Regions from separate parts of the Homo sapiens genome. Here region 1 is linked to region 2. The links come from fine-mapping of genetic effects on gene expression. Tissue or cell type: whole blood. Region 2 holds a variant in brackets; the other region holds the start of a gene. All regions are shown on one strand. Distances are between the middles of the regions.

Evidence for each region. PIP is the estimated chance that this variant, and not a neighbour inherited with it, causes the effect.
Region 1: TMPRSS13 starts here. The variant in region 2 is fine-mapped to the expression of TMPRSS13 in whole blood (INTERVAL, PIP above 0.99).

The regions. Positions count from the first base shown.
Region 1 is chr11:117,928,134-117,930,751 of GRCh38, reverse strand. It overlaps TMPRSS13 (transmembrane serine protease 13), which reads left to right and starts at 1,350. Exons shown (of 13, transcript NM_001077263.3): 1 at 1,350-1,465. The coding sequence starts at 1,445.
Region 2 is chr11:117,992,123-117,994,622 of GRCh38, reverse strand. IL10RA (interleukin 10 receptor subunit alpha) reads right to left here. Exons shown (of 7, transcript NM_001558.4): 4 at 1,213-1,382; 5 at 474-624. Among named protein-coding and RNA genes, the nearest start is that of IL10RA, 7.0 kb to the right of the region's middle. RefSeq lists an enhancer at 1-42. The variant A/G (reference allele first, on the strand shown) is at 1,509.

The DNA.
Region 1 (2,618 bases), 64 kb after region 2:
ATAGTAGTCACTTCCTTTCAGTTTTTGCTCAAATATGTCACCACAGAGAGCCCTCTCTGACCATCCTGTTCCCAACTGCCAGGACTCTGCCTCCCCTACCTTCTGGATCCTTTCGCTGCTTTGTTTTTGTGAACGGCACTTTTCACTTTCTAGGAGGCTGTGTAACTGATTTATTGATTTTTGTCTGCTTTTTCCCCCCAACCCGCAAATACTAGAGCCACAGGGCAGGAGGCTTTGCCTATTTTGTTCCTGTGTCCCCAGCACCTAAAGCAATGCCAGGCACTCAATACATATTTGTTGAATGAACACGTGAAGGATGCGTGTGAAGTGTTTCGCAGGATTCTTGGCATCTTAAGATTATTGCTGCTGCTGTTGTTTGCTGTGTGACTTGAGCACATTCCTTAGCCTCTCTGGCCCTCTGTCTCGCAGTCTGTAAAATGAAAAGAGTGAACCACTAAAGATCCATGAGCTTCTTTCAAACTCTAAAAATCTTGGTGCCTCTGAATGCTCAAGAAAGTTCTTCCCAAACCTCAACAGGAACTCCTTTTTCTTTTTTTTTTTTTTGCAGTTCTCAGCAGCAGCTCAGCTGGAACTTAGCCGGAGGTGCTAAGGACTCCTTTTGCAATAGCCCTTCCTTTACTTCTTTTGACTCTGAGGATCAGAATAGGGTATAGGTTTGGGATCACGAGTCAGCCCAATGTTTCTTGGAACAGTTTCCATTCAGATAGTTATGTTTTATTTCATTGACTTTGATGTGTTGCTTCTGGCACTTTATTGTTTTCAATAGAGGGCAATTCATGATGTGCATAATTAAAGGTCATTTGATTTTCATTTCTTTGTTAAGAGTTTCATAAAAACAAACAGAGTTCAGGAGAAAGCAATTGCCAGACCATGCGCCCAGAGACCATGTGCCCTGATTTGGGATTTGGACACCTGGTCCTTGGAGATGAAGGTTCCCACTGTCCTGCCATAGGTGGGGCTCTGCCCCTGGCCTGGAACGTCCCCTGTGGGGATAGGGTCATCCCTCAGAAGGCTCTGGAGCATCTGTTTCAGGGGCTCAGGTCAACAGGACCAAGACCATCCTCTCAAGGCTCTGCCCTTTCTCTCAGGGCCCCTCTGAAGAAGTAGCTCAGAACACTCCTCTGCTTCTGTGGGGGCAGTTTCATGAGTAAAGGCAGCTTCAGGTTCCCGGTATTTGGAATTTGGTATTCGCTGAGTAACTGGGATGGCCTCGATGAGGGGCAGAGGAACAGGTCTGGCTAGTTCTGTGTTGTTTATACTGGGGATTACTTCACACGTCCCAACCGGCTTCCCCGCCCCATTTGGTGGGGGCTGGCCCTTGGCCCTCCAACTCCTTTACCCTACATGCCTGAGAAGCCAGGGACCAAGATGGATCTTCTCCTCGACATCAGCTAAGCCTGGAGGACTCTTCCCCTCAGAGACCATGGAGAGGGACAGCCACGGGGTGAGTGTGACCTCAGGCCTCGGGCCAGATTCTCCCAGCGCTGAGGAAGCAGGGCTGAGGCTGGGAGACAGGTGGGACAGCTACCTCTGTGTTTCAGGTTTGGGGGAAACTGGCTGTGCCTCTTCTAGTTTGAAGCTACTTACGATCAAGATCTCTTGGTCTCCTTTTAACGTGGTTCTAGAAAAAGCCCCTGGGAGGAGAAGCTGCTGGGATTTGGGGTCTGGCTGGTGAGCACCCCAGGGCTATGTGGCTGAGTCGTGGGTTTCCTGCTCTGTGGTCTGTGAGCACTCCTGCCGGGCATCCATAGTGTTACAGCACCAACTTTGCCGATTGGGAATCCAGGCTAATCTACTTTAATCTCATTTTTGCTGGTTGGAAAATCAAAAGCATTCTAACTGCAATTCAGGGGCATCTTGTCTAAACCCCTCACTACACTCCTAAACCTTCCCAGAAAACTGTGACTTTCTGGGTGCATTCAAGATTTTCAAGGGGATGTTTCAACCTCCGTTGGTCACTTCTTTTTGGACTTAATAACTTTCATGCTTGGGAAGTGCTTCTTGATGTTTAACCACAAGTCCTGCTACCACTCAACTTCCTTTCTTCTGCTGCTCTTGGGGTAGGAGAAAGCAGCTGGCCTGTCCTCTGTGGGAAAGCCAGTCATACACACATGAAGGCTTCCAAAGATCTTGTTCTGCTGTGCCTCCACTTTCTTTTCCTCCAGGAAATCCCTTTTGTGCTCTCATTTCTCCTTTAGGTCTTGTTTTCTGCCCCCTCCAAATTCTCTGTACCTTACCGACATGGTAGAGCCTGGGACTCTGGGAAGAATGGGCTAGCACTGGGTTTGGGAAAGATCAGCTCATCCTATGTTTTGGCTTATAGTTGGCTTGTGGTCCATTCTGCACCCCCAATGTGTTTCTGCAAACTTTACCATCATTTTTTTCCCACCATTCTTCCAGCCCCCTCTTGACTTTTCTTTCCCAGGCTGCCTCCCTTGCCCTCTGCTCTGGGCTCCTTCGTTCATGTCTCTACCTCACCAAAGTCACTTGGCCCTAGGCCTTGGGGGGTTATCAGAGCCTCTTACTGTTGAGCAGTAAGGGGGGTACACAAGGGCATGCAGAAGGTGAACCCTTAGTCACAGCCATGGGGCATCCTC
Region 2 (2,500 bases):
CCCGGCACCTGACTGACAGCCTGGAGCAGTATTTGCTGACTTTAGCAGCTCTGGCGAGGAGCAGAGCAGAGTAGGGGAAGTAAGGAGAAGCCCTTTGTATCCCTGGCTCTGAGGAAGAACAGCAGAAGACTGTAACAACAGGAACTAGCACAGCTCACTGAAGATGGCCCCGGGGGAGGGGGATGTTGTTGGGAAACACCGCTGTGCTCCAGTGGGAGGACCCTAGATCCAAGAGACCTGGTTCTGCCACCAAGTCCTAGCTGTGCAACCCTAGGAAGTTGCTAATACTGAGCCTCAGTTCCCTCATCTCTAAAATGAGGACAGTAGGACCTCTCTCCTATTAAGGATGCAGAGCTATGTGAAGCAGCACCTAACACAGTGGCTGGCACCAGCATCCCAGGTGCACGCGTTTTGGATTGCACCAGGCCCTCCCAGTCTCCCTCCCCATGCTGAGAGCAGCCCAGCTGACTCACACTGCCTGGTGAGGGAGATGCACTCCTCTTTAGACCACATCCCCTTGTTACTTCGGGAAGCGACAGATGGTTTCACCTGGACACAGAACTCTCCCACTTCTCCAGAGGTTAGGAGGCTGAAGTTTTCATGTTTTACTTTCTTGTGTGTGAACTGAAACAAAAATGATAGCAATTAACAAAATCCTTTTATTTCATGGCACACGGACACTGAGAGCTGGTGGGCCTTTAGAGGTGATTTCAGCCAACCCCCTTCAGTATCCTTTGTCTAAGATGACAAACCCCACAATTACCAATGCAGCACATGATCTCTGTAATGACCACAATTTTATTTTGTATTTTAAAAGAAAAAGCGGTGTTTTATAGATGCTGAAGATCTTCCCAGAAGGGGCTGGAATCAACAGTGGTGGAGAGGAGAGAGGGTGGATTTTGCAGATGCCAGCTCTCCCATAACAGGGGCGCCCTCTGGTAGGTTACACAGCCTCTCAGAGCCTTATTGCTTCATCTACAAGGGCTCTGGGGTGCCCAATTGCCCTAGTAGGCAATTCCTTTGAGGAGCATCTCACAAGAGCATAGCTCTGAGGGCTGAGGTGGTTTCTACTCCCTCCTCTGCCCACCCACCATCCCAGACCCTCCCTTTAGTCCATAAGCAAAGTTCCCAATGGCACACAAGGGTGCTTCCAGCCCAGGGGACAGGGAAGCCAAGGGAGTTCTGGCCCTGGGGCCTTGGGGAACCCCATACCGTGAAGTTTCCCGGCACCTTGCGAATGGCAATCTCATACTCTCGGAAGTGACTGAAGATGCTTTCATATGTGTCATTTGCGGGGGCCATCTTGGGCCTGGGTAGCTGAATCTTCCCGAGGATGAAGCCATTGTGGATCTCTAGGTTCACACTGCCAACTGTCAGAGTCACTAAATGGAGTTGGGGTGGGGGGGAATACCATGAGACTTGAGGGCTGAGGAGGGCCTGGGTGTCCCCGCCGAGACTTTGCCTCCAGAATTAAGCTTAATTAGAACCTAGGCCTAAAACTTGGCCAC[A/G]GGTTTGTCAATGCAGCAGAATGTAAGGACTTCTTGGGGAGCACATTAAAAATACATATACCCTAAAATCAGATGCATCAACCAATGGAATATGATGGACAGCCCAGAAATAAACCCACAATTGATTTTCAACAAAGGGGCCAAGAACACACAATGGGAAAAGAACAGTCTCTTCAACAAATGGTGTTGGGAAAACTGGATATTCACAAACAGAACAATGAAAATAGATCTTTGTCTCACCTCTTACGCAACAATCAACACAAAATGGATTAAAGACAAATGTAACACCTGAAACTATAAAAACCACCAGAAGAAAACCTGGGGCAAAGTTCTAAGACTTTGGTCTGGGCAAAGATTTCTTGGATACGATCCCTAAAGCACAGGCAACAAAAGCAAAAATAGACAAATGGGATTGCATCACACTAAAGAGCTTCTGCACAGCAAAAGAAACAACCACTAGAGTGAAGACACAATCTATGAATGGGTGGAAAATATTTACAAATGTTCATTGAATAAGGGGTTCATATCCAAAATATACAAGGAACTCATACTACTTAATAACAAGAAAACAAATAAACCTGTTTTTAAAATGGGTAAAGGACTTGAATAGACAGTTAAAAGAAGACATACAAATGACCAACAGATACATGAAAAAATGGTCAACATCTCTAATCATCAGAGAAATGCAAATTAAAACCACAATGAGATACCACTCCACACCTGTTAGATTGGCTATTATCCAAAAGATGGAAGTAACAAGCATTGGCAAGGATGTGGTGAAAAGGGAAACCCTTGCATGTCGCTGGTGGTGAATTTCTCAGCCATTATGGAAAACAGTATGGATGTTCCTCGAAAATCTAAAAATAGAGCTACCATGTGATCCAGCAATTCCCACTACTGGGTATATATCGAAAGATATTGAAATTAGTGTATTGAAGAGATACCTGTATCCCCCGTTCATTGCAGTATTATTCATAACAGCCAAGATATGG